7 linked regions of the Homo sapiens genome follow. The gene in region 2 interacts genetically with the main gene of each other region. Each region holds a gene or a part of one and is shown on either strand. Other genes may lie near its edges.

Region 1 (4,341 bases), on a different chromosome or scaffold from region 2:
TCTCATCAGACACTAAGAAAACAAATAATCTGATAAATTGAGCTTTAATGGATTACATCAATCTGTGGCAATGTGGCAATGTCATAACAGAAGGGTGGTGGTCCACAAGGAGACTGGAGAAAGATAAGCCAAAGACAAGAATCTGTCAGTGTTTCTCTAAAGGACAGGCAGGAGAAGGTGCACACTGGCCTATTCCGTGGACTCATCTTGCCTAGAGGAAAGATGTGTACATCCAGCTATTCTGCTGTGCCTCCTGTGTAGACTCTCCACTCATCTATTCACTTCTGAAATAAAATGGTTTTCCAGACTTTCCTGCTGAGAACAGACACTCTGGCCAGGCCACCCCAGTGTCTCTTATGCTTTGCAGTTATATCTCTCCTTATAAATTAAGAAACTCAGCCAAGTGCAGTGGCTCACACCTATAATCCTAGCACTTTGGGAGGCAAAGGTGGGCAGACCACTTGAGCCAGGAGTTTGAGACCAGCCTAGGCAACATGGTGAAACCCAATCTCTACAAAAACTACAAAAATTAAGAAATGGTGACGTACTCCTGTAGTCCCAGCTACTTGGGAGGTTAAGGTTCCCACCCGGGAGAATCACCTGAGTCCTGGAGGTCAAGGCTTGTAGTGAGCTGAGATCGTGCCACTGCACTGCAGTCTGGGTGACAGAGTGAGACCCTGTCTCAAAAAAAAGAAAAAAGAAACAAACTGGTATTTATAGTATTATTAAGTCTCTAATGACTTTGATAAGTATGAATTGTCCACAAAAACCTCTTAATCATAACCATGGATAAACTGACAAAAAAAAAAAAAATCACACAGTTCTCCTATGTACTTTCTGAAATTGCAAAGGACAAGGTAGTAGAAAATACCACAAAGGGATACATAACCATACCAGGCCACCTTGTTCAGCCACCACTAACTGGTCTTAATCTCTTCTTACTGCCCTTAATTAAGGCAGAGGGTATGGTAGTTGAGAACACTGGGTTCTGGAGTCAGGCTGCTTGGTTTGAACAAAATCCTTCTCCATCACTTCCTAATTAAGGTTTCTTAAACACCCTGAGCTCAGTTTCTTCATCCTGTTGAGCAGAGATGAAGGGGGGATATACCTCCAAGAGTCATTGGGAGGATTAAGAGACAATGCATTTGAAGAGACATTGATACAATGTCTGGCACCTAGAAAGCACTCAACAAACGGTAGCTCCTTTTTGTTATTACCATCGTCGTTATTTTTTATTATTAACTGTAAAAATAGTGATAAATCCTTTTGCTGAATATACTGACTCTAGCAATATTCCAGTAGTTGATCTTCATTCGTAGCAGTTTTCTTCTTTATCTGAAGCTCAAAAGAGCTTTTTTTTCTTTTTTTGAGATGGTGTTTCACTCTTGGTGCCCAGACTGGAGTGCAATGGCACGATCTCGGCTCACCACAACCTCCGCCTCCCAGGTTCAAGTGATTCTCCTGCCTCAGCCTCCCGAGTAGCTGGGATTACAGGCATGCGCCACCACACCCAGCTAATTTTGTATTTTTAGCAGAGACAGAGTTTCTCCATGTTGGTCAGGCTGGTCTTGAACTCCCGACCTCAGGTGATCCACCCGCCTCAACCTCCCAAAGTACTGGGATTACAGGCGTGAGAAAAGAGCTTCTTAAGGCACTAAATTAATTCCAATGCAAGACCCCAACCAACTTCTTCACAAGCTTTTTCAACCAAGGTGCAGAACTGCTCCTCCCTCAACAGCTGCTGTTTTGATCACACAAGCACACCTGTTCAATCTCATTCCCAACTTCCAACCAGCTTCAGAAGTCATGTCAATCACCTCAAACTTTCTACCCCTCTTTCTCTCTATTATAAAATAAGGGTTCTCCAAAATTATGGAAAGTTACCACCTACCAACTCCTGATATAAGAAGTAACATTTCCTTATATATATAGTAGATATATGGATACACAGACAAAAAGCCATCAACAAAATATAAGTTGAAACCACAATGAGATGCCACTTTACACGCAGTAGAATGGTTATAATTTTTTTAAAAAAGAAGAAAATCAGTAAGTGTTGGCAAGGATATGGAGAAACTAGAACTCTCATACACTGCTGGTAGGAATGTAAAATGGTACAGCCACTTTGGAAAACAGTCTGGCAATTCCTCAAAGGTTAAATACAGAGTTATCATATGACCCAACAAGTCCACTCCCAGGTATATAACTAAGAGAATTAAAAACTTAGATCCACACAAAAACTTGTATGCAAATGTTCATAATAGCATTATTCACAATTGCCAAAAAATGAAAACAATCTAAATATCTATCAACTGATTAATGAATAAATAAAATGTGGGCTATCCATACAATGTAATGTCATTTGGCAATAAAAAGCATGAAGTGCTGATACACGCAACCACATGGATAAACCTTGAAAACATCATGCTGGGTGAAAGAAGCCAGTAGGAAAAGACCACATATTGCATGATTCCATTTATATGAAATGTCCAGAATAGGCAAATCTATAAAGACAAAAGTCAATTAGTGCTTCCTAGGGACCAGAGAAGCTGGGAGGAAACGGGAAGTAACTGTTTATGGGTAAGAGGTTTCTTTTTAGGATGATGAAAATGTTTATCAAATTGATAGTGGTGATGAATATACAACTCTGACTATACTAAAAACCAATGACTGTACATATTAAATAGCTGAATTGTATGGTATGTAAATAATATCCCCAAAAAGCTGTTATGTAATTAGGTAAATGTTTACCAAATGAACAGGGACAAATAACCAGGAGAGGAGTGCTGAGTCCCCTGGGGGCAGTAGAAAGCTTGGGAACAAAACTAGCCAGTATACTCGTGAAAATAGGCTTCAGTGTGCCCTCCATAGCCTGCAAATCTATTTTTAAAAGCCACTCAAACATCTGTTAGCTTTTCATGTGACTTCACAACTTCCATCATCCTAGTTATAAACCATTTAAACACAATATCTTACAAATGTACATTTCATTTTTTTGCAGTTTGGGTAACCCCTATATCATAACTTATACAACAGAAGCTACTACAGAGCTAGTCATATGTATCAAATTTAATTCACTTATTTATTCAACAAACATTATATGCCTACTGTGTGCCAGACAACGTCCTAGTGTGAAGTATGCAAAGATGGCTGAGATGTAAGCCCTACTCTCAAGGAGCTCACACACAGCATGGTGAACTGAGAGTTATAATGTGAGACTTTGGAGAACACTCTGACTTGTGTTGCTGCAAATGAAATAAGGTCCTAATAAGTGTTATTTCAATGAAGATGATACAAAATAATTACAGGGCAGTGATCATCCTCCTGATGAGCAGCCTACCTGTTGACATGCTCCTCCCAGTCCTCTGGTGGAGGAGGGGCATCTGCATCAGTCCTGGCAAAGATGACATGCCGTTCACACTCATTCATCACGCTGCGTGCCTTCTGATTGTCATAGAGTGGCATAGGCGTTGATGTGACCGTCTCCACATCTATTGGGACGTCTGATTCACTGTAAACAGGTGAGGAAATAGGACCGGGCCACACATACTTCACAGGTATTTAACAATCATCTGGTTGACAAAAAATGTATCTTTAATACAGTCAGCTTTAAATTACGCATAAGCACATTATATTCACAAGAAAATTTTGATCCAAAGTCATCTTTCCCACACTTGTCTAGATCTCTGCCCTCTCAGACATGATGGTATGTACTGGAAGAACACAAAGTCATTTTTTCAATGAGTCTATATAAAAAATGATAAACATCTATTTTTTTTTTAAGATAAATATGGGCCAGGTGCACTGGCTCACACCTGTAATACCACCACTTTGGGAAGCCGAGGCAGGTGGATTGCTTGAACTCAGGAGTTCAAGACCAGCCTGGGCAACATGAGGAAACCCTGTCTCTACCAAAAATACAAAAATTAGCTGGGCATGTGGCACACACCTGTGATCCCAGCTACTAAGGAGGCTAAGGTGGGAGGACTGCTGGAACCCGGGAAGTCAAGGCTGCAGTGAGCCATGATTGCATCACTGCACTCCAGCCTGGGTGACAGAGCAAGACCTGGTCTCAAAAATAAATAAATAAATGACAAATACAGCCAGACACAGTGATTCACACCTGTAATCCCAGCACTTGGGAGGCTGAAGCAGGAGGATCACTTAAGCCCAGGAGTGAGCTGGTCTCAAAAAATAAATAAATAAATGACAAATATAGCCAGGCACAGTGATTCATACTTGTAATCCCAGTACTTTGGAAGGCTGAAGGAGGATTGTTTAAGCCCAGAAGTTCAAGACCAGTTTGGCAATATGGCAAAACCCCGTCTCTAAAACAAACAC
Region 2 (4,341 bases):
TCCTATGACCCTGCCAAATCCCCCTCTGCGAGAAACACCCAAGAATGATCAATAAAAATAAATAAATAAATAAAAGGGGAAAAAAAAAAAACAATGAATCTCTCATTTCTAGTTGTAAGTAGGTTAGAAATGAGTCAGCGCTCCTCATGTCATAAAGTATAAGTTGTTTTGTTTTGTTTTGTTTTTTGGAGACGGAATCGCCCAGGCAGTGGCATGATATCGGTTCACTACAACCTCCACCTCCCGAGTTCAAGCGATTCTCCTGACTCAGCATCCCAAGTAGCTGGGACTACAGGCACACACCACCACACCAGGCTGAATTTTTGTATTTTAGTAGAGATGGGGTTTCACTGTGTTGCCCAGGCTGGTTGCGAACTCCTGAGCTCAGGCAATCCACCCACCACCCCACCTCGGCCTCCCAAAGTACTAGGATTATAGGCGTGAGCCACCACGCCTGGCATAAGTTGTTAATACATCCATTTTGCTTGAGTCTTACTCTGGCTGAAGAGTTGTGTTGTTTTGTTTTTGTTTTTGTTTTGTGACATTCAATCAAAACCTTTTTCTAACTGCTTTAGCAGAGACTAAAGATTGGAAAAATAGAATAATTTTCTGTTTTTCCAAGTGAGGGTAGTCTTTCCAAACTGTAAGTTAGCCCTTAGACTAGAAGGATAGAAGAAGCTTATTCTGCTGCTGTTCAAATATATCTTTCCAGAAAAGCAGCCTTAGTGAATTCTAACACTGTATATAATCATTGTTTAAATGATCCTTTTTAATTGAAAACAATTTTTTCACTACCACTCTCCATACTGTTTAATGTGATTTTTAATCTAATGTGTGTAGAACTAATTCTTTGTTATTGTTTTAGTTGGAGACGTTGATTTGATGAATCTATAAATCAATGTACATCAAAGTCATAATAGGACTAAAACACTATAAGAAATATAACTGAATTTCCCAGAACTTAAGATCATTTACAAAAATGTGATTACCACAGAACATGCGATGCATACATTTAAACATTAAAAATCATTTTTGACTAATAAAGTAGGCAATTTCCTGAATACTTGTCCCTCCTAGCAACAATTCCACATTATTTATAACTCTAAGTGTAGACTCTTTTTTAAAAAACATGCACTATCAGGTAGGAGAGTTAAACATCAACCCACTACTTTTATGGCAATTTGGCTTGAATTGATTCAGATTAATTTAATCACTTACCTAGCAAGGTCCTTAGGCAGTGGTCCTCAAATTTTAGACAGCAAAGAAGCACCCACAGTGCAAATTCAAATGTGGAATCCTAGGCCTTGGCCAGAAAAATAACCTGATTCTGAAGACCCAAAATAATTACTTTTAATTAGCACCTGGGATACTTTCAAAGGGAATCATGCTAAAAGATTAGCATGATCCCTAGACAAAAGATGAATCACTTTGACAGGGCTGGTAAAAGACCTGGATTTCAAGACATTTGGCAGCCTGGGTGGGACACAGAAGGCATGGCCCTGGGCAATCCAATAAAATAGCACAGAGACACATCAGAAGAGAAGTCGTATCAGTCCTAACAACAGATGACCAGCAGGCTCAATTCTCCCTCCTTGCCTTCCCATTGGAATACATATTCCAAATCAAAGTTTAAATGAGAGGCAACACTGTACCTGGCTGGAAATGAGGAATCTCTGTTGGTAGCTGAGGCTTGCTCTGACCTCTCTATCACTAGGTCAGGGGAAAGAGGGTCATTTCACTCTCTCCCATTCCCTTCAGAGAAACAGATCCTGAGTTGCCCCTCCCCTCCTGGTTTCTAGCTCCACTGGTAATTCTCTTTCAAGGCAGTTCTCTCCCAGTAGTGCAGTGTGCATGGCCAGATGTGGAAGGTAAAGCCCTGAGGTGCACTGAGTACTGTGCAGCGAGCGACAGGTAGCTGCAGGAACAGAATGAGCTCTCAGCATAGTACAGTCTCACCACTAACACCCCAAAAAACTAAAAAAAAAAAAACTATAAATTATTTCAAATCACACAAAAACACTCCCCTCATTATAGTTACAGGACCGAAAGATTCAACACTAGGAAAGGAAGACCTCTCCTAAGTATAGAAAATGATCTATCCTTCATAAATTTCGTTGTACCCATTCATCTGCTTTCCAAGCTAACATAAAGAGGAAGATTCCTCCAGCTTCCAAGTGTAGTGAGAGAGACGAAGGAACACTTGGTCACTCTGACCAGTCAACATGCCCCTCTTTTGTCAAGGTAAGTAAACCAAAAACATTAATAACAACACAAGACCTTTAAGAAGCTCTTGCATAAGAAAAGAGGGGAACTACCATAAACAGGAAGAGGGAAAGCTTGCTCCTGTAATGGACTTACACTAGGAATATGGAAATCAAACCGAGGAATTATCTACTCTATGTTCCCAATTTTAAAAAGAAAAAGAGAAAGGGAAAGACCTCTAAAAGCAAGAGATGAGGAAGGAAAAACAGCTGAGATGAAAAAGGAAACTGGATAAGAAAAAACTGGAAGGAAATTCAAACACGTAACAGTAGAGATAAAAATTCTACATTCAAGGCAACAGAGAGATGTATAGAAGCTGGAAAAAAATCACATTCGTGTTTCAGTGTATAAGCACATAAGATCCTCTCCAAACACACAAAAGAAAAAAGACCATGATGAAAATAATGCATATTGTTTGATGGAAGGACAAAGAACACAGGTCCAACCTACAAATAACTGGAATTTCTGAACTACAATCATAAGCAAATGTACAACTGAAAAACTGTTCTAAGATGGAAAAAAAAAAAGATTTAAAATATTTACCTATAAATTGAAAGAATTCACCATGTTTCTAAAAAAAACAAAGCTGCTGGAAAGAAACTTATGCCTAAACATAGCCTACAGGAATATCTTAATTTAAAGACTAGAAAGAAAAAAAGATGCAGGCAAAAAAAAAAAAAAAAAGGTTTACCTACAATTAGCAAAAATCAGGGTAGCCTCTGCCATCTTCACCCACTGCAACAAATGCCAGATGATAGAGCAATGTCTGCAATGTCTGGGGATTTGATTTACACTTCGTATCTTAGCATCTATAACAGATAGGCAAACAGTAAACATTTTTTTTTTGAGACGGAGTGTCGCTCTGTTGCCCAGGCTGGAGTGCAGCGGTGCTATCTCGGCTCACTGCAAGCTCCGCCTCCCGAGTTCACGCCATTCTCCTGCCTCAGCCTCCCGAGTAGCTAGGACTACAGGGGCCCGCCACCACGCCCAGCTAATTTTTTGTATTTTTTAGTAGAGACAGGGTTTCACCGTGTTAGCCAGGATGGTCTCGATCTCCTGACCTCGTGATCCGTCCATCTCGGCCTCTGGAAGTGCTGGGATTACAGGTGTGAGCCACCGTGCCCAGCCAGTAAACATTTTTTTTTAAGTTGTAAATGAATAAAAGAAAAATTCAGACCAGGCACCGTGGCTCACGCCTGTAATCCCAGCACTTTGGGAAGCTGAGACAGGAGAATCACCTGAGGTCAGGAGTTCAAGACCAGCCTGGCAAACATGGCAAAATCCCTTCTCTACTAAAAATACAAAAATTAGCCAGGTGCAGTGATGTGCACCTGTAGTCCCAGCTACTCCAGAGGCTGAGGCAGGAGAATCACTTAAACCCAGGAGGCGAAAGTTGCAGTGAGCTAAGATTGTGCCACTGCACTCCAGCCTGGGCGACAAAGCGAGACTCCATCTTAAAAAAAAAAAGAAAAATTCAAAAATTTGAATGGACTTATTCTATACACCTCTTCTCATTTATAGTACCTTTCTTCAACTTTCAGGCCTGTTCACTTCTTGGACCTTTCTTACACAAACTGATGTACACTTTGCAAGGCCGAGGTAGGAGGATCACTTGAGGCTAGGAATTCAAGGTTGCAGTGAGCTATGACCGTGACACTGCCCTTTAGCCTGGGAGACAGCAAGATCCTGTCTCTAAAACAAACAAACAACAACAAAAAAAACCACAGATCTATATGACATCCAATCTTTCTGATACCAGTATCATTACTTTTATCAAAAGATAATTTTTTAATAAAACTCTGCAAGCACATAAGAAAAAATGTTCCACCACTGATGACAATTTGAGCTGATCCACAGCTCAAACTCTCTTGCTGCCTTTGAACAGTGGGTAGTAGGACTAGTACAACAAACTCTAGTCAGCACATATGCCAAGTATCCAGAATTAGGAAATAAGGAGATAATGGGGTATCCTTGGCCAAAAGTATCCAAAAAATAAGAAGAGACAGAAAGGAGCAGTGGCTCATGCCTGTAATCCCAGCATTTTGGGAGGCCAAGGTGGATGGATCACCTGAGGTCAGG
Region 3 (3,065 bases), on a different chromosome or scaffold from region 2:
GATTCTCCTGCCTCAGCCTCCCAAGTAGCTGGGATTACAGGTGCCCGCCACCATGCCCGGTTAGTTTTTGTATTTTTAGTAGAGATGGGGTTTCACATGTTGGCCAGGCTGGTCTTGAACTCCTGACCTCAAGTGATTCGCCTGCCTCAGCCTCCCAAAATGCTGGGATTACAGGCGTGAGCTGCCACGCCTGATTTAAAAGTAGAGTCTTTAAATAACCTTCCCAATACTTCTTTCTTGAGACAGGGTCTCGCTCTGTCACTCAGGCTACAGTGCAGTGGTGCAATCTCAGTTTCTCACCATAACCTCCAGCTCTCAGGCCCAAGCAATTCTCCCACCTCAGCCTCCCAAGCAACTGGGACTACAGGGCCAAGTCACCAAGCACAGCTAGTTGCACTTTTTTTTTTTTTTTTTTTTTGGTAGAGATGGGGTTTCACCATGTTGGCCAGGCTGGTCTTGGACTCCTGACCTCAAGTGATCCGCCTGCCGCAGCCTCCCAAAGTGCCAGGATTACAGGCATGAGCCACCGGGCCCAGCCTACTTCTTGAATTAAAAAACAAAAAACAAACAAAAAACCCAGGCAGATAATGAAATCCTGCATACACTCAAGTCTGCATGAAGCATAAGGCCAAACTGGAAAGTGGGCATTTGAACAACCCTCTTCCTGCTCCCTTCCCCTAACTAAGATGGGCTTCTGGGCCTATCAACCATTCTTTGGTAAAGAGCAGCAATTCCCCATAGGCTCTTTAACAACAGCATTGGTGTTTGAGGTTGCATCTTTAAAACATCTATTTCAGGATTTGGAAGCTTCTGGAACCATAACTTTAACCCAGCCTTCCATAACAGTCTTTTTACTTTCTATTACAGAACATGACACTGCAATAATAGCAATGAACCGCTTCAGCTTTTTCACTTCTGCAGAAGCTAAAACAACTTCTCCAATATATAAAGGGGCTGGAAAGCTAATTTCCTGGGAAAGAAATACACAGCCTGGCCCTGGCATTTTAGTTCCTAGGAGAGCTGAGATAAGTCCGTTGATCAAAACTCCATGTACAATTGTATTTCCAAACTTGGTGTGTTTTGCAAAGTCTTCATTCAAATGCAAAGGATTGACATCCCCTGTTAATTCTGAGAAGGTAGCCACATCAGTCTGTGTGAAGGCCCTCCTAAGTTCAGCGCGGTCTCCAACTTTGATGTGCATATGCTGAAAGTGCTGCAGGGTCAGCACTGGCAGGTTCAGACAGACTGTCCTCCGAAGCCCACCCCACCAAAGGTGATGGCTGGAAATTAGTGGGAACATCTTCAGCACCCTCAAATTTCATCAAGAGCTTTTAGCCTGCTTCAGTCTTCAAACATGCAGGCACCAAAAAATAAATATGAGAGTGGATGAACGTTTCCAAAATGGAAGACTATTCATTCAATCCAATACTAGTTCCCTACTATTACCAGATAATGCAAGAAGAAATGGAGAAACCTAGAAGAGAAAGAAAAAGGTTAAGGCATTGGGAGAAACCACACTGAAGCACAGGGCAATGGGGAAACATGCCCAGTTTTACAGGATAAACAAAGCTGATGCAGGAGCATTTTACAGAGCATCCTGAGAGGAAGCCTTCGATAACAAGTGGTCACATCTCAAAAAGAGCGTACCAATATATAACACACAAGGCATTAAGTGTTAAATAAAAAAAGTAAGCCTTAACCACAGGGTTGCAAGTTTTATCCCAAAACATCTCCCATAGATTTTAAAATCTAAGTGCTCTGTCTCACATTTTTGGAAACAATCAAGTCCTTTATTTTCCCCTACTTAGATCATTTTAACCATATTACATTTATGCAAGCACAAAAATGAGTTGTGTATATTAAGAAGCAGTTGACCCATCACTCAGTCTTGTTTGGAATATGTGAGGGAATAGTCTTTACCTGAATCACCCGGAAAGCACATTTTTTGCCTTTATAGGATCCTAACAGGGTCAAAGAGCTCCACAATTTGACAAGACCACTGCAGAAAGATCAAGAAAATACATAGTGTGTCATAGACAGAGAACAAAATGAACTTCAACTAAGGTTTCTAAAATATTCACTTCTGACTTTGCAACTATAACCATCAATGGGAAAACTACAGCTGTAACCAAATCGTAAGTTTTGCCCTCTCTAGAGTACAAGTTTCTGGTGGATGAATGTTCATATTCATCCCAGTTTAAATTCCCAAAAGCTGCTCAGAGTTCACAACAAAAAATTTATTCTCATTCTCAGAAGAGAGCATTTTTGCTCCATCGGTCTCTCTGCCCTGTTATACTAGAAATTTCCCACTCTCTGTCATACCTGCTACATATTCTCAAGATGGCTGACAAGGTCTTCTCTTCATAGGTTAGGATGTCCAAAGGTAAGGCGGCATCAACCTGCATATGGAATAATGCTATTAGCAGGCTATTCTCACCATTATTCTTGAATGCTTGTCAACTTTTGACAACAAATGAGTTTTGAGCTTTTCTCCTCCACATAAGCAGTATTTTATTTAATGGTGCTGGCACTTTAGTTGCCTACTTACAGCTCCCCCTGCCTAGAATGTTCTGCCTACACCTCTTCATATGGCTGATGTCTCTCATCCTTTGAGCCTTCATTTAAATTGTTCCTTGACTGATCTTCAAGATGAGACAAAGTCAGCTTGCTATGTTCTTTCTTGTACAGGACACCATACTTTCTCTTTCATAATTCCCTTTATTCTTGTCACTAATTGTCCAACATGTTTTCCTACTACAAGAACCAAGACATTAGTCCATGTGGCAGAGGCCATGTCTGTTTGTTTGCAGCTATATAAACCCCAGGAACGAGGTTTTCTACCTGACACACAGGTACACACAGGGATATTTTTTTTTAAAATTTTGTATTTAAAAAAATTATAGACTCACAAGAGATCACAAAGAAATGTACAGGGATTGGCCGGGCACAGTGGCTCACGCCTGTAATCCCGGCACTTTGGGAGGCCAAGGAGGGCGGATCACCTGAGGTTGGGAGTTTGAGACCAGCCTGATCAACACGGAGAAACCCCATTTTTACTAAAAATA
Region 4 (4,341 bases), on a different chromosome or scaffold from region 2:
CGAGGGGTAGGGGGAACACCATGACCAGAACAGCTATCAACATAGGACACACAACCATCTCCCCTCCACCGTTCTCCAGTGGTGGCCAGCAGGCCAGAGGGGAGAGTGGAGGGGGACTCCTGGTCTCCCTGACCCTCCTCTCAATAGTAACACATAACCTCCTGCCTTGCTCTGCACTACAGCCATTTATATATGTCCCCTTATTTCCTAACAGAGAAGATGATCTTGGAGGTAAATGACTATGCTGTTCACCTTCAGCAACAAGCTGGAAAAAGCAACAGACAGTCACTGGGTAGAGAAAAGATTCAAGTCTTGGGACCATTTTAATGCTTTTCAAGATTGCAGACTTTCTTGTAGACATGAGCAATGTTTAAAGGAAAAACCATGTGATTATACATTCATTAAAAAAGAAGCCGGTACAGTTTATGCACAGGTACAGTTCTCCAAGGCAAGTGTGACAGGGACAATGGGAAGGTTTACATGCCTTTCTAGGAGCAATGGGATGGATCTTGCCCCAAATGCGCCTCTCACCAAAAACAGGCTGGGTGCCCATGTTCAGGCAGTGAGTGATAAGTTCATTCCTACAGGTTGGATCAGGGATGGTAATCTGGCAGCTCCTTCCTCAGCCCCCAGGACAGCAGTAAGGGCTTCATGCCTCTGGGTCCTTGCATATTACTTTCAGTTACCAACAGAAAACATTTCACAAATTCCTAAGGTGACTTCCTAATAAATATATCCTGCCTCAATAGAGAAACGCCACTGAAGTCTTCTTTCTCTGCTCATCTCAATTTCAAGAAAAAGGCAAGGTCTACTATCTGAAGTAAATACAAAAGTGAGCAACAATAAATATTCCATTAAGTTCAACATCATTCACTTTCTTGAAACCTAACTTAAAGGCAGCTTTGCCATTATACGCTAAGATTTTCAAGATATACCATGACATTCAGCCCCAAATCCCCATCTAGCAGTAGTCAACATGTAAAAGCCAGCAAACCACAAGGTCATCTAGAGTGACTTATTTCTTCAAACAGCAGGTTACCTGGTGCAGTATCTGTATGTCAAGCGGAGGTCCAAAGGGTACATCAGCTCCCGAAGGGTATGGCTGGTAAATGTGTTTGTCAGTGAGAGGGGCCCGGATGATGAGCTGCTCCGTCCGGAAGAAAGGCCCAAAGTGCTGGTCAAAGTACTCTTTTTCCAGGCGAGCCTGGCTGCTGGGGGCTGACCAGAGGTCAACTGGATTGGTTGTGACCCGGACAAACACCAGGCCTGACGAACACGCAGTAATGAAGACCAGCGAGAAGAAAATGACACAGCCAGGGTTTCGGACGCAGAAAGACCCCCAGCGTGTGAACAGCCGCCTCAAGCAGCCCTCAAATGCTGCGCTGACAGGGTCACAGCAGGACGCCTCTCCTGGAAGAACGGGAGAGGAAGGGAAGGTGGAGGTTAAGAGCCAAGCCGTTCCTGAAAGTCGGAACAGGGAAAGCATTAGTTGCTATCTCATGGCAGGAATCAAGCCCACCTGGGGACACATATGAGACCCCTGCCCTCAGCTACCTATCTGCTCAGCAAAGCCACCTTTGTTGGCTGCCCTCAATGAGCGCTATTCCCACCCCACAGAGGAGATGCCGACACAGGAGCCTCTGAAGGGTGAGGTTCAACCCTGCCCTGCTATTCCCACTCTTGTCCTGCTGCTTTCGCGCCTCCCCAGCTATGATTAATTACTTGGTTCTGCTGTGCCACCCTGACTAGATGGTAGGGCCACAAAGGCAAGGACCATGTCTGCCTTGGTCGCAGCCGTGTCCTCGGCACTGGCACACCACCTCACCCACTGCTGCAACCCCACTGAGGAAACGAATGCTCTCATGACAGACAGCATCATCTGAACCCTTTTATTCATGGACAAATATGCCTACCTTTGTCACTTGCATTAACAGAAAAAGCTATATTGCTATCGATGGGAGTGTACTCGGAGACAAAATACCGTTTTCTGAAAAACAGAAGTGAAGAAATAGCATTAGTGGACTTCATCACAGTGAGGTTGTTTTTGGGACATTCCTGTAATCCCATGAAATGCTTTCTTCCTCCTCCTGGCCTCCTCCTCCCTAATTACTGCCTTCTTTCCCCTAAGTCCCCTTGCTCTGGGTCCCTCTGCTCACCAGTCTCAGGAGAAAATTTAAGAAGATGTTAAGAGAACAATTAATAAAGGATAATTTCACCTTGTGGCCCTCATTTTATTTAAAACTTTTAGGTCCTTTAAAAACACACTACTGGGCTAGGCGCGGTGGCTCACGCCTGTAAACCCAGCACTTTGGGAGGCCAAGGTGGGCGGGATCACGAGGTCAAGAGATCGAGACCAACCTGGCCAACATGGTGAAACCCTGTCTCTACTAAAAATACAAAAAGGTTAGCTGGGTGTGGTGGCACGTGCCTTGGGAGGCTGAGGCAGGAGAACTGCTTGAACCAGGGAGGCGGTGGTTGCAGTGAGCTGAGATCGCGCCACTGCATTCCAGCCTGGTGACAGAGCAAGACTCCATCTCAAAAAAACAAACAAACAAACAAAAACATGCTACTCTTTCCAGCAGCAATGAGCATACCTAGTGCCCAGATCTTCGTTTCTACATACCATTCTCCAATAAAAGGAACCAGAGCTCCTTGCAGGGCAGGGACAGGGAATATGTAAGATAAAGCTGGGGATGGGAGGTGTATGTAAGAACACAGAAGCCAGCCAGAAGGCACTCCCAATGGCCCAAAGTGGAAAACTTTGAGTAACAAGATAAATGACAGTGTTGGATACAACCCACAGAATTAAAAGTCCATGATGTAAATAACTGAGTAAATAAATGAGGGAGAAGGGATAGCTTTCTGTACAGAAGTCCAGTTAGTAAATGCAGAGGAAGAGAGGGAAAGAGAAAAAAATCACTATCAGGCAAACACCTTAGTTATAACTGTTGCAGACAAGACCCAACAATGAATGCTAAAATCAGTGGTTGAGTTTCAGGAGGAACAAAATATTAGTATAGTCTCAAAGCATCTTCCCCCAAGATATTTATCAATTACGAAGGGAAAAGCAGTAACTTCACAGTGGAGATAGCCAGCAGACATCACCTTGAGCAAGTGATCAAGGTTAACATCACCAGGAAAGAGACGCATCAACATCAGGGATCCCTGACATGATGCACCGAGAAAGACATAACATGACTTCTGTGATGTACTTGTCAAAACACCTTATTTCAATCTCATCATGAGAAAATACCAGATAAAGCCAAATGGAAGGACATGCTACAAAATACCTGACCAGTATCATCAAGAGTGTTAAGGCCAGAAAAGGAAAGACTGAGGAACTTTCTGTCACAGATTAGAGGGGACTCATAAAACACAAAAATGTAATATGGGACCTTGAAACAGGGAAGGGCATTAGAGAAAAAGCTGGTGAAATCTGATTAAGATCTCTGGTTTAGCTAATAATAATGTAATAATAATGGCATGGTCGTGGTTTTGATCATTGTACTATGAGTTTTTTTTTTAATTATTATTATACTTTAAGTTTTAGGGTGCATGTGCACAACGTGCAGGTTTGTTACGTATGTGTACGTGTGCCATGTTGATGTGTTGTACCCATTAACTCGTCATTTAGCATTAGGTATATCTCCTAATGCTATCCCTCCCCCAGGCCCCCACCCCACAACAGTCCCCGGTGTGTGACGTTCCCCTTCCTGTGTCCATGTGTTCTCATTGTTCAATTCCCACCTATGAGTGAGAACATGCGGTGTTTGGTTTTTTGTCCTTGCGATATTTTGCTGAGAATGATGGTTTCCAGTTTCATCCAAGTCCCTACAAAGGACATGAACTCATCATTTTTTATGGCTGCAGAGTATTCCATGGTGTGTATGTGCCACATTTTCTTAATCCAGTCTATCGTTGTTGGACATTTAGGTTGGTTCCAAGTCTTTGCTATTGTGAATAGTGCCGCTATAAACATACGTGTGCATGTGTCTTTATAGCAGCATGATTTATAATCCTTTGGGTATATACCCAGTAATGGGATGGCTGGGTCAAATGGTATTTCTAGTTCTAGATGTACTATGAGTTATGTAAGTTGTATCATCGGGGAAACTGGGTTAAGGATACACATAAATTCTACCATTTTGCAACTTTTTGGTTAAGTCTACAATTATTTCAAAATAAAAAGTAAAAAAAGTACTGTCCTAAATTAAGATGCAAATATCTAAAAGGACTATAGTACTCCATTTAATTAGATTTGAATCTGATTTCGCTCATTTGACTCTGACTTTTTTTTTTTTTTTTTTTTTTTTGGTGAGACACAGTCTCGCACTGTCGCCA
Region 5 (3,439 bases), on a different chromosome or scaffold from region 2:
AAGATGAGCCTATTACATAGAAGGAAAGATAAAATTGGAAGAATATTTTAAGTATCTTAGTAATGTCCAACATACACTATTCAAAATCCTTTGTGAATAACCCAACACTTACAATTTACAATTTACTATGTTTGCAAAAATACCATTCAGAAAGTCAGAAGTCCTATTCCCAATCAATACACTAAATTGGATGTTTTCCTCAATGTGCCTGACCCCATGTGTAATGTCATTTGTACTCAAAATTAGAAATCTTTCCTCTGTAGACATATTAATTCTACCAACAGCTAAAAAGAAAGTCTTCCTATCAACCGCGTGTTTGGATAACTCAATGCATGCCTGTATCATGAGCAGATTCTATACTTTCAAAGGCAGTGAAAGGGATAGAACACAACTTTAAAGTTCCCTTGGTTCAGTTTGAGAAACTAGTGGCTTTCCCTGCCACTGATATACCTCACAGAAATGATCTCTTTAACTAATACTTTTATAACAAAAAGTTTTTAAAAAGATATTTTATATATATTTATTTTAGAGACAGGGTCCCTGTTGCTGAGGCTGAAGTGCAATGGCGCAGTCATAGCTCACTGCAGCCTTGGACTCAGGTGTTCAGTGATCCTCTCACCTCAACCTCCCAAGTAGCTAGAACTACAGGCATGTGCCACCACGCCCAGCTAATTTTTTAAGTTTTTGTAGAGATGGGGTCTCACTGTGTTGCCAAGGCTGGTCTCGAACTCCTGGGCTCAAGTGATCCCCCTGCCTTGGCCTCCCAAAGTGCTGGGATTACAGGCATGGGCCACCATGCCCAGTCTTATGAATAAATGTATCTTGAAACACTTGGCAGGGCCTCCCCAAACACAGAAGACAATTTAAAGCAATTGGTGAAACAAATTTAAAAGTGCCTGAACTGCTTAAGAATTCAAGCAAAGACAAGTGGGAGACTGGTCAGATTTAAATTATCTTTGACAAGCAAAGGGTGGTCCAACTAGTTTCCTCTTGGCCAGGCCTGTTTACTGACTGTAAGCTAATGATCAAATAAGAGCTAATGATTAGGAATGGTCCGAAGAGGGCTCTCTAAAAGGTACATCTGGCTGGCAATCTGAGATCTGTGAGTAACCACTAGAAAAAAAGAAGTTTCTGCATTCCATGTCTGGGGCATCGACTGCAGTTCATTTAGTTTTAATTTCCGTTGTGAAGTGCTCTTCCCTTGCCCATTTTATATATTTTTGACTATAGCATTTTGAGAGGGACACAATGCTTTGCTTTACACACAATTCAAGCCTCCACAAGAAAACCTTTCTAACCCTTGTCGCAAATATTGGGAATATGTCTCACCTGCTCTGACTGTGTCAGCTTCATGGCTTCAGAAAGATATGCTGTTAAGAGAAAAAATAGGCATGTTAATATGTGTCTTCATTTTGTAATTAACAGGTAAAAGGAAGAGTTTTAATAATCTTCATATGACAAAGAGAACTGGTCTGATAACTCTGATACAATTGGGGATTTTTTAAAAGAATTCTTAACTTCCCCCAAAAGGATGTCAGTGGCAATAAAATGAAAATATTCCCTACCCTATCTTGAAGGTTTTGTTATTTAAAACTCCTACAGATTTTATAATTCAGAAACTGAAGATGGTCTAATCAGAAAAATAGGTTTAGGAAAGATAAAAATCAAACAAGAACCTATCCAAACCCTATTACTCATCATACTCACAAAAATATCATGAGATTATCAATGACTTTTTATCCGTCTGAATACCTGGAATCTATCATTTTGGACTCCTATAGAATCACTTTTAATGAATTGTCTCTGAGTTAAACCATCAGCCTTATGGTTAAAAGCCCTAAGAACTTGTTGACATATTTACTGCGAGGAAGTTACTGAGGACAGTATAATGTCATTTATGAAGACCTTCAATAAACTTCTCTCTGATCTTAGATCCTCGGTGACTATTTGTTTGAATTTTAATAGCCAATGTAAAAATTATTATCTTTCCTCTTTAGGATGACTGCTAGAAAACTTAAGTCAAGTTCTTAAAAAAATATGCAAGAACTAATGGTACATTTTGTGAACTACACTACTAGTCCTTTCTCATTTTCTCTATGGATGTCCTTATCTATGTATCTTTAATTACATTCGATATTTTATTGTACATTCATCTGTAAGACATTTTATAACCTTTCGGGAACAAGGTTAGGTATAAATAAGTTCTCTATTATCAATGAATTGTCCATAATGAATCTCCATTTTTATCTTGCTTGTTATAAACATTTTTGGCATCTCTCATACCTACATTAAGTTCCTCTTTTGCCCTTTTGCAGATACTACGAGGCATTGCTTTCTGTCCAGTCTTAATCCAAATAATTTAATGCTTTGATGTCATAACTTAAGAGTTCTTGCCTGCTAGGTTCTACCACAGTCTTTAAGATACAATTATATCAGGGGTCCCAAACCCCCAGGCCGGTACTGGTCTATGTCTTGTTAGGAACTGGGCCACACAGACAGCAGGAAGTGAGCAGCAGGCAAGCCAGTGAAGTTTCATCTGTATTTACAGCCACTCCCCATTGCTTGCATTACCGCCTGAGTTCTGCCTCCCATCAGATCAGCAGCGGCATTAGCTTCTCATAGCACAAACCCTACTGCAAACTGCACAAGCAAGGGATCTAGGTTGCACTCTCCTTATGATAATCTAATACCTGATGATCTGTCGCTGTCTCCCATCACCCCTAGATGAGACTGTCTAGCTGCAGGAAAACAAGCTCAGGGCTCCCACTGATTCTACATTATGTTGAGTTGTATAATTATTTATTTCTATTATTACATTGTAAAATATAAAGTGTACAATAAATGTAATGTGCTTGAATCATCCAAAAACCATTTTCCTGACCCCAGGTCTATGGAAAATTGACTTCCACAAAACCAGTCCCTGGCAGCAAAAAGGTTGGGACTGCTGAATTAGATGCTCCCTTTCCAAGAAAAAGAAGAGTTGGAGCCAGGCGCAGTGGCTAGCACTTTGGGAGGCCAAACAGGAGGACTGCCTGAGCCCAGGAGTTCAAGACTAGACTGGGTAACATAGCGGGACCCTGTATCAATTTAAAAAGAATTTAAAAAAAAAAAAGGAAAGAAAAAACAGAGTTGGTTATACAGTCTTTGCTCCAGCTATGCTTACCATAATTACATCCTTCCCACAACCCTTGTCTTTTTTTCCTGTAGTATGTCTGTACAGCTGCATACTATTTCTTTTCCTTTTGTTCATGTTTAAATCTGTGAAGACGGCCGGGTGTGGTGGCTCACACCTGTAATCCTAGCACTTTGGGAGGCTGAGGCTGGTGGATCGCCTGAGGTCGGGAGTTCGAGACCAGCCTGGCCAGCATGGTGAAACCCCGTCTCTACTAAAAAAAAAAAAAAATACAAAAATTAGCTGGGCGTGGTGGCAGGCACCTGT
Region 6 (5,080 bases), on a different chromosome or scaffold from region 2:
ATCATGTCATTAAAAGCATGTAACTTGTGACTTCTTAATCTTTATTTACTCTAAATGAATCATTGACCTAAAATACCTGGACATCATTTTTTATTCAGTGTTGACTCAATATAATCCCTCATTCCTCAAGTTCCAAATTAGTCACGTTGTCATGCCCACCTCATGCATATCTGACATTATAGGCTCAATGCAGCTAAACTGATTTACTTCTGCCCATTAAACCAGCATCAAAGCTTTTACACAGAGATTGGCAGTCTGAGACTGAACATATTTTTCAATGAATATCTATTGAAAACCTACCAATTAGACAGGCACCATTCTAGACACTGGAAATACACTATTAACAAGGCAAAATCCCTAACCTCATGGTACTTACCTTCTTGTACAGTGGTTCTCTAACTCTAGTATACATCCAAATCACCTGGAGGGCTTATGAAAACATTGCTAGAAAACACCATCTCATCTCTTCTCCCAGCACCTGTTTCTGATTTCATAAGTCTGAGGTAGGGCCTAGAATTTTTCATTTCTAACAAGTTTCCAAGTGATGCTGCTATTGCAGTTCTTGGACCACACTTTGAGAACTACTAGTACATGAAAGTCTGTCCTTCATTTCAAAATCAGAGCAGCCACTTACCCTTGGCATAGAAAATGGTTGAGCAACTTGGCACACTATTTTTGGAAAGATGCCATAATTTCTGCACTTTTATTAAATTCACTGAAAATCCATAATCCACTGGTTATTTATAAAAGGGACAAGAGGTGAATGAAGGAGATAACAAATCAGTCCCATCTGTTCTTTACATGGAAGAGTAAAAAGTATCCCCAAAAAACACCCATGCAACTTAAAACACACAAAAATAAAGAAGTTACAGTCTTTTATGAGGAGCTGTTTCTTTTTGCTATTGTTTTTTGTTTCTTTGGTTGGTTGGCTTAACTCTACAGGGTCTTTCTAATTATCAAATGCTGTTTTAGTCTAACACAAAAAAAATTCAATCTCAACTCTCTGATAATATTTTCTGGTAATAATCACTTACTGGCCTCATTGCTTCTCTCACAGGAACCAACATAAAGCCAATTTAAAATCAAGGAAAGATAATATTAACATGGTGATAATGCTCTTAGCCTAGGCCATTTGATTAATTCTTTCCCAATTCCTCTTATTCCTCCAGACTCTGTAGTTGTTCCTTATGTTTGTCTGTCTTTGGCCATCTACCACCTCCTTCTACAGTGTTTTCCTTGGAGAATTCATATAGCATGCCTAGGTCCAGGGACTCCCATCTGTCTATTTCCAGTCCTTTCCACCTACATGAATACTAATTATAGAGTTTCCAATATTTACTGAACATCTCCACTTGAATACCTTATAGTTTCACATTTAACATGTCTATAACCAAGCCTACCTTACTTCTGGTACCCCTCTCTTTTCTTCTGACACTAAGACACAATTTTCCCAGCTCTTCAGGCTCAAAACCATTTAATAACCTTTGAATTATTAATAAAAAAATATTATTATAGCAGCCAAGATTTAGAGAGTGCTTACGCTATAGTAACTGATAACATTATGCAATTGTTTAATTACATACAGCAATTAATGAAACCGAGCTAACATATGCAAAGCACTTAGAAAAGCCTCTAGCACATTGTAAATATGAGCATAAAAAAATTATCCATAAGGACCTGGTATGGTGGCTCATGCCTGTAATGCCAGCACTTTGGGAGGCCAAGGCCTAGGAGTCAAGAGTTTCAGACCAACATAGGCAACACAGCAAGAACCTATCTCTACAAAACATTTTTTAAAAAATTAACCAGGCATGGTGACGCACTCGGGGAGGCTGAGGCAGAAAGATCACTTGAGTCCAGAAGTTCGAGGTTGCAGTGAGCTATGATCACGCCACTGCACTCCAGCCTGGGTGACAGTGAGACTCTGTCTCTAAAAATAAATAAACAAATTCTCCACAATAACACCACAAGGGAAGTCACTCTTCCTATCTCTATTTTACAGACAAGGAACTCAGACCCAGAGATGGCAAATTGCTAACTCAAAGTCATTTAGCAGCTAATTGCCAAAGCCAGATCCCAATCCAGCCAGTCTAACTCCAAAATTTCTGCTTTTAACCACTATGCTAAACTGCTTCTCTTTGCCTCTTTCTCTTTAGTCAATTCCACCTGACTGTTACTCTGAAACAGGATCCCTTTCTCTCCAGCACTTTCAGTTCCAGCTCTTTATCACTGGATTACTGCACTGATTTTCCACCTAGCACCTCCGCCTCCATGTTTTTCACTCTTTTCATTTAAACGTCATAATACTACCGACTAATCTTTTCAAATGAGCTTTCCCTATCCTAAAGCCTTGAAAAGGCTAAATCGTTTGCCAGTTTCCAAAAACTCATCCTATCTAACCCCCGTATTTCTCGAATAAACCTTCCTGTCAGGCTGGCTAGTTTCCTTCCTCGTCCCGCGACCTTGTATTCTTCATATTATTCGTTTTACTTAGAATAACATCCATGTTCTCCTCTACTTCTTTTAACTAATATTATCTTCTGAGGCCCACTTCCTTTCGAGTAAGCCCAATTCTAGCAGCCTTTTTTCATCGCCTCGATATTTAAACTACCTCCCATACAACTTGCACTGTTCACTTTGTTCCACGTGCACAGCTTTCGCCTCCTTTCTGACAGTTCACGACCAAACCTTCTTCCGAGACCCCATGATCTCCGCTTCCTAACCTACAGCCCCCAAAACGATGTTTCCAAGATGCACTGAAGGCCTGGACCGTGGCAACAGACCTGCCACACATTCCTAAACGAGTCTTCGGTCAGGGGAGGGTGACGGAGGGTTCCACACACCGAACACACGGTCATATCATCCTCAGGCCAGCCCGTGCACACGCACGGTCAGGCAGCTCTGCTCAGCACCCGCAACCGCGCCGAGTAGCTGAGGGGCTTCCAAGTACTGCTGTGGGGACGCCCGTAGTTACCTGAGTTCCCCCAGCCCTAGCAACCGGCCTTTAACACGCCCGTCTCGGCTGCTGCTGACATCACGAACGCCTCAGCCAGAATCTGCAAAATCGGAGCCGCAGATAATGCTCTCCGCCCCAACCACGCACCTCCAGGACTCACCTCAGCCTCCACGAGGCTCCCAGCCGATTGGACCCGCCCACAAGACCTGCCCCTTCCGGGTCCGTTCCGGAAGCCTCTTCCGCCAGAGGTTCCCTTTGCCTTCTAGGAGGAAATGACGGAGAAAGCCGGGCGCTGATTGGTGAGCTCTGGCCAGGAGCGGAAGCCGGTGTTTCGCAGCCCAGAGCATTTGCAGCTGGTCACTCCAGTCTCCTGGGACTTTGACTCGCCGTACTCGGCGCGCTCCTGCTGAGGGTCGCCGGAGATGTCGCTCGGCCGCCTTCTACCAGGAGCCTGATCCGTGCCGCCCGCCGCCCGGATGGGACCACCAGAGTGCTGTGAGAGGAGGGACTGAGGCCGGGAGGGAAGGCGGGGCGGAGAGGGCCGGGGGCGCGGTCCGAGGCGCTCGGGACTCGGCCCTGGTCAGGATTGCAGGCTGAGGGTTAGTTCTGTCACTTCTCTTGAAGAACGAGCCTGGCGCCACTTCCTCGCATGTTGGTTAGGTTCTTTCCCGAGGCGTTGTCGGGGACGCCGTCTCTACGAGAAGTGAAAGGGTGGGCAGTCGGCGGGCACTAGGAACAGTGGTGCTGTAGCCAAGGAGGCGGGCGCCCTAGGGTGCAGGTGAAATGGGGCAGGCGGGAGCTCTTGCTGGTTGTAGTCCCAAAGACAAGTCCGTGTTGCCGTTCCTGTGGACTGGACATTCTACGGAACCGAGAGCACCTCGGGTGAGGGGTGGGTAGACGCTGAGCCCAGGATGGTGCGTTGTCTAGGTTCCCGCAATCCCTGGAGTGACACTGGCCTGGCTTTGTGTTTCCGCTCTCTGGCCGCTTGAGGGGGAAGTGACCAAGGCTGACTCCTCCTTGTTTGCTCACTGAGACTTAAGTGCTCTTTCACCAAGTGGGAATTAGCTTTTCTCTCTTGCATTTCTGCTACTTTTATTCTTGAGCTGCATAGAAGTGTTTAGAAATGAGTTCTGATGTCTAGAGCTGTGCAAAATTAAAGCTAACATAGCTGTACAAAAGAAGATCCTGCCGGCGCTTCTTGAACAAGGTATCTGCAGCCAGCCTAGAAATTAGACTTTTGTCTACATTATCTGATTTTCTTTAGAGTTTCCTGAGCTTAATGCATGTTCAGCTAATCTTCCATATTCAAGAAAATTGCAATAGCAAAGAATGCGTATGATGAGACTGTGGACAGCTGTAGCAGCATAGGAGTTTTGAAACAAGATTGCTGTGTATTGGATAAATGAGAAGGGAAGAAATTGTGGCCACAAACTATTATTTTAATAAGCTTGGTGGGAAAGGGAGCATTTGAGTGGGTATGTATGGTTAATATCCCTGACAGGTGCTGTGCATTATATTATTATGGGGAGAAGTGTGTGCTTCAATGGAAAACTACATAGTTTAGATTCTATCTTAACACCCCTTGGAATAACTAATTCTAAAAAAGCTATTTTTCAGTTACGTAAACTAGGTAAGTGACATCAATGCTAAATAATTATTGTCAAGACATGCGAATTCTCTCAGAGATTCAGTGGAAGTTTTGCCTCCTTTTGCACATTTATTTCAATATTCCTGCTCTAAGGTGTCTAATTCTGGGATTTTCTTTATCTTCTCTGCCTGGTTCCATTTTGAGTTAAATAAAATCTTGAACACGGGTTTGGTTTTATATTTGAATGAGTCATGATTTTACCTTTTCTTAAAAAACTATCTTAATATTATTAAATATTATGGGATGGGACAACCACAGATGGAAAAAAATGATTTTAATAAGAGTTGGTATCAGAGCAACTGTGAGTGGTAAGGTAATGCATCTTACAAAATTCCTTATACAATGTTTCAAGGATGTAACTCTACTTCCTTATTTAAGTTTCAAAATGCCTAATATATCAATATTTACAATTAAAACATAGTGCAGTTCATTTAATATGAAGGGGTACTACTAATTTACTGTTAGGATATGTTCTT
Region 7 (4,297 bases), on a different chromosome or scaffold from region 2:
CTTGAATAATTTGTAATATACAATTAATGTGTTGTCCTTTAAAAATTTTTAATTTTCTTTAATAGGTAAAACTGTATCCCTTTCAAACTTATGTATCTTGGCAGATGCTTTATAGAAAGTGCAACAGCATATTATGTCTCAACCAAATTTAAATGATAGCTTTTAATGTTTTAATAAACTGTATCATAGTATAGTAGTGAAACAACGTTGGTCCCTTTACTCACTCTCAATGCAAGTTAACTGCTCACCCATAATTCCTTTTGTAATGAAAATCATTAGTATTTAATTAGGTTTAGCTATGATGTGAAATAATTATATTTATTTATGTTTTCTTGTCTTTTTCTCTCCTTTTACACAGCTACTTCTGAGTGGAGGAGCAGACAATAAATTGTATTCCTACAGATATTCACCTACCACTTCCCATGTTGGGGCATGAAAGTGAACAATAATTTGACTATAGAGATTATTTCTGTAAATGAAATTGGTAGAGAACCATGAAATTACATAGATGCAGATGCAGAAAGCAGCCTTTTGAAGTTTATATAATGTTTTCACCCTTCATAACAGCTAACGTATCACTTTTTCTTATTTTGTATTTATAATAAGATAGGTTGTGTTTATAAAATACAAACTGTGGCATACATTCTCTATACAAACTTGAAATTAAACTGAGTTTTACATTTCTCTTTAAAGGTATTGGTTTGAATTCAGATTTGCTTTTTTATTTTTATTTGTTTTTTTTTTTTTTGAGATGGAGTCTTGCTCTGTTGCCTAGGCTGGAGTGCAGTGGCGCAATCTCAACTCACTGCAACCTCCGCTTCCTAGGTTCAATCGATTCTCCTGTCTCAACCTCCCAAGTAGCTGGGATTACAGGCACACATCACGATGTCCTGCTAATTTTTGTATTTTTAGTAGAGACGGGGTTTTGCCATGTTGGCCAGGCTGGTCTTGAACTCCTGACCTCAGGTGATCTGCCCACCTCAGCCTCCCAAAGTGAGCCACTGTGCCTGGCCGAATTAAGATTTGTTTTTGAAATGCTGTAAAAGGTTATATTGGAAATCCAGTAATTGATTGTTGAGATTTTTATTTCTGTTAGAGACTTAGATTTTTTTAAGTTAGCTATTTTAAAAAAGCATTCAAAAAGATTAATGAAAATTGTAATAGAGAAAAAGTTAGAAATTCAGTTCCTTTTGGCAGAATAAATGTTCAAGAAAATTAGGCTGTGAGGGTACTCAGAACATTAAAAAAAATGTAGGCTGGGCATGGTGGCTCACACCTGTAATCCCAGCACATTGGGAGGCCGAGGCAGGTGGATCACCTGAGGTCAGGAGTTTGAGACCACCCTGGCCAACATGTCAAAACCCTGTCTCTGCTAAAACTACAAAAATTAGCTGGGCATGGTGGCGACCGCCTGTAATCCCAACTACTTGGGAGGCTAAGGCAGGAGAATTGCTTGAACCCGGGAGGCAGGGGTTGTAGTGAGCTGAGATTGTGCCACTGCACTCCAGCCTGGGTGACAGTGCAAGACTCTGTCTCAACAACAACGATAACAAAATATTGATTCGGCAGGGCACGGTGGCTCATGCTTGTAATCCCAGCATTTTGGGTGGCCAAGGCAGGCGGCTCACCTGAGGTCAGGGGTTCGAGACCAGCCTGACCAACATGGTGAAACTTTGTCTCTACTAAAAAAAAAAAAATCCAAAACAAATTAGCCGGGTGTGGTGGCACACTCCTGTGGTCCCAAGTACTTGGGAGGCTGAGGCAGGAGAATTGGTTGAACCCAGGAGGTGGAGGTTGCAGTGAGCTGAGATCATACCACTGTGCTCCAGCCTGGGCAGCAGAGCCAGACTCTATCTCAAAATAAAGACAAGTAGATTGCCAATTTTTGAAGAATTCATCAAGATATTTTAAGGAAGGCACTTTATATTAAATATATGTCAGATCCTTTAGAAATTGCATACAGTTGGTTGGGCACGGTGGCTCACGCCTGTAATCCCAGCACTTTGGGAGGCTGAGGCGGGCGGATTGCCTGAGCTCAGGAGTTCGAAACCAGCCTGGGCAACACAGTGAAACCTCGTCTCTAATAAAATACAAAAAATTAGCTGGGCGTGGCAGCATGTGCCTGTAGTCCCAGCTACTCCGGAGGCTGAGGCAGGCAAATTGCTTGAACCCGAGAGGCAGAGGTTGCAGTGAGCTGAGATTGTGCCACTGCATTTCAGCCTGGGCAACAGAGCAAGACTCTGTCTCAAAAAAAAATAAAAAATTGCATTGCATACAGTTTTCACTGTAACCCTAATCTTTCCTCATGTGTAGATTAGAATAAATTTTTTAGACAAAACCTTTCATCAGTATTAAACATTCTACAGATTTTATGATATCATTAGCATTTATCTTTATGCATGTGTTATATAAAAATATTTAAAGTAAATGTATTTTTTAAATGTTATTTCCATTATTAATGGATTGATACTCCTTAAGTAGAGCATTCACAACCTTTTAGTAATATTTGGGAAATATGTTTGGTCTCATTATTAGATGGTATTACATCTCAAATGATGTTCCTGTTGCAGAAGTCTGCGAAACAATATCTAAACTTGGCTGCAGTTGAGAGCTAAACAGTGTATTGAACCAGTTAGGAGTTTAGTTCTCTGTAGAAAACCAGAGGCAGTCCAGGGCTGATGTAGGTTTTGTTCCACATTCTTTAGGATCCTAGGCTCCCTCCATCCCTGGTATGTGGTCCTCATTTTCATATAGACCAAGAGCTAGAGCTCCAGTTACCATTTCTTAAAGTATATTTTAATGCCAAATAGTGAATAAAGGTGGCCAGAAAATTCATGCACAGAATCCTTCTTTTTCTCATTTTGTGCTGATTGGTATAAATTTTATTGTATTTGTAGTCTCTGGAAATCTTCTAACTTTGAGAGGACAAAGATGAATTCCTAGTCCTGTTTTGGATGGTCTTCAAATGATCCTTAAGGGCAGTTATTTAAAATGTCTTTCTTAACTCACCCAACCTAGGCTGACCGAATGTAGTCTGTATAAACTAGATGGTTAAAGATAAAGAAGCCTATATATCAGATGCATAGACAAAGAATAAAATGGCATCCAGAACTGGTCCCCACCTATTCCCAATCCTGGTTCCACAGCAGAATACATTCATAGTTCAGGCATTCTTCCTTGAGATAGATATAATGTAAGTGACCAAGTCTCTTGGACAAGTATTGTCTCTGATCAATCCCTGCCAAACTCCTTTCCTTGGTTAACTCAAGTGGTTAGATCTTACTCCCTGAACAGAAGGAATATGAGAGGTCAATACATGCCTAGACTATTCAGTCCTCTGATATTGCTCCACACCCTTTCCCTCAAAAGCCATGAGACCTTTCAATGGTCCCAGTTCCTCTACCAGAACACCAGAGATGCCTGCTTTACATGGACTTATATATTCCCAAGAATCACTTGGATAAATGAGTGGTGCTGCTTTCCCGTGGTTGGGGAAAAGCTAGGAACCTGACAATGCAGTGCTCAGAACCTGCTGACCGGTACTAGTTATGCTGTCTTGCCATAGTAGTGCAGTTCTTTAAAATGTTGATACTTGCTCTCTTATCAAAGGTTGGTTTTTTTGTTTTTTTGTCAAGACAGGGTCTCACTATGTCACCCATACTGGAGTACAATGGTGTAATCTTGGCTTACTGCAACCTCCACCTTCTGGGCTCAAGCTGGCCTCTCACCTCAGCCTTCCAAGTAGCTGGGACCACACCCAGTCAATTTTTTATTTTTTATTTTTTAATTTATTTTTATTATTACTTTTTTTGTAGAGAGAGGGTTTCGCCATGTAGCCCATGCTGGTCTTGAACTCCTGGGCTCAAGCTGTCTGCCCACCTGGACCTCCCAAAGTGCTGAGATTACAGGCATGAGCCACCGCACCCAGCCCAAATAAAGTTTTAAGAAATTACTTGGCCAGGCATAGTGGGGCCTTTGTAGAAAAACATAGCTTTTCTATGAGAAGATGATCAATATTTTCTTTTCCTTTGAATTTGGAATTACCATTTTGGAACTGTTGTCAACAATGCATAATAATATATCAGAATGCTTCCTAGTATATTATTGGAGAAAGAACAAACAAAAGTTTAAATTGATATAAAATGCATATAATGGAACAAGCAACCCTGCAAAAAAAAAAATATATATATATATATACCATCTGGGAATTTCTGATAATAACATTGAAATCTGTTCACACAGTCTAAAATTCTTTTGATGTATCGTAGTTTTGAAAAAAAGGTAACAGTTTACTATA

Evidence for each region.
Region 1: of ATG10 (region 2) and KANSL3, changing one enhances a phenotype caused by changing the other (phenotypic enhancement), as found in Homo sapiens cells (one large-scale study listed by BioGRID).
Region 3: of ATG10 (region 2) and RPP14, changing one suppresses a phenotype caused by changing the other (phenotypic suppression), as found in Homo sapiens cells (one large-scale study listed by BioGRID).
Region 4: of ATG10 (region 2) and NPC1, changing one enhances a phenotype caused by changing the other (phenotypic enhancement), as found in Homo sapiens cells (one large-scale study listed by BioGRID).
Region 5: of ATG10 (region 2) and NRBF2, changing one enhances a phenotype caused by changing the other (phenotypic enhancement), as found in Homo sapiens cells (one large-scale study listed by BioGRID).
Region 6: of ATG10 (region 2) and WDR3, changing one suppresses a phenotype caused by changing the other (phenotypic suppression), as found in Homo sapiens cells (one large-scale study listed by BioGRID).
Region 7: of ATG10 (region 2) and WDR12, changing one suppresses a phenotype caused by changing the other (phenotypic suppression), as found in Homo sapiens cells (one large-scale study listed by BioGRID).

Annotation. Positions count from the first base shown.
Region 1 is NC_000002.12:96,627,972-96,632,312, forward strand, and holds part of KANSL3 (KAT8 regulatory NSL complex subunit 3), read right to left. Parts: intron 3,573-4,341; exon of another isoform or gene 3,512-3,572; coding exon 3,341-3,511; intron 1-3,340. UniProt on the Homo sapiens protein: Non-catalytic component of the NSL histone acetyltransferase complex, a multiprotein complex that mediates histone H4 acetylation at 'Lys-5'- and 'Lys-8' (H4K5ac and H4K8ac) at transcription start sites and promotes transcription initiation.
Region 2 is NC_000005.10:81,978,295-81,982,635, reverse strand, and holds part of ATG10 (ubiquitin-like-conjugating enzyme ATG10), read right to left. Parts: intron 4,308-4,341; exon of another isoform or gene 3,787-4,307; intron 3,137-3,786; exon of another isoform or gene 2,958-3,136; intron 1,729-2,957; exon of another isoform or gene 1,219-1,728; intron 1-1,218. UniProt on the Homo sapiens protein: E2-like enzyme involved in autophagy. Acts as an E2-like enzyme that catalyzes the conjugation of ATG12 to ATG5. ATG12 conjugation to ATG5 is required for autophagy. Likely serves as an ATG5-recognition molecule. Not involved in ATG12 conjugation to ATG3.
Region 3 is NC_000003.12:58,315,849-58,318,913, reverse strand, and holds part of RPP14 (ribonuclease P protein subunit p14), read right to left. Parts: intron 2,400-3,065; coding exon 2,323-2,399; intron 2,000-2,322; coding exon 1,921-1,999; intron 1,475-1,920; coding exon 1,418-1,474; 3' UTR 1,301-1,417; coding exon of another isoform or gene 794-1,300; 3' UTR 1-793. Other genes in the region: HTD2 (hydroxyacyl-thioester dehydratase type 2, mitochondrial), read right to left, coding at 794-1,300. UniProt on the Homo sapiens protein: Component of ribonuclease P, a ribonucleoprotein complex that generates mature tRNA molecules by cleaving their 5'-ends.
Region 4 is NC_000018.10:23,555,204-23,559,544, forward strand, and holds part of NPC1 (NPC intracellular cholesterol transporter 1 precursor), read right to left. Parts: intron 1,988-4,341; coding exon 1,914-1,987; intron 1,462-1,913; coding exon of another isoform or gene 1,411-1,461; coding exon 1,040-1,410; intron 1-1,039. UniProt on the Homo sapiens protein: Intracellular cholesterol transporter which acts in concert with NPC2 and plays an important role in the egress of cholesterol from the endosomal/lysosomal compartment.
Region 5 is NC_000010.11:63,150,081-63,153,519, reverse strand, and holds part of NRBF2 (nuclear receptor-binding factor 2), read right to left. Parts: intron 3,293-3,439; exon of another isoform or gene 3,164-3,292; intron 1,371-3,163; coding exon 1,330-1,370; intron 10-1,329; coding exon 1-9. UniProt on the Homo sapiens protein: May modulate transcriptional activation by target nuclear receptors. Can act as transcriptional activator (in vitro). Involved in starvation-induced autophagy probably by its association with PI3K complex I (PI3KC3-C1).
Region 6 is NC_000001.11:117,927,819-117,932,898, reverse strand, and holds the start of WDR3 (WD repeat-containing protein 3), read right to left. Parts: upstream 3,161-5,080; 5' UTR 3,117-3,160; intron 1-3,116. UniProt on the Homo sapiens protein: Part of the small subunit (SSU) processome, first precursor of the small eukaryotic ribosomal subunit.
Region 7 is NC_000002.12:202,876,999-202,881,295, reverse strand, and holds part of WDR12 (ribosome biogenesis protein WDR12), read left to right. Parts: intron 1-358; coding exon 359-436; 3' UTR 437-4,297.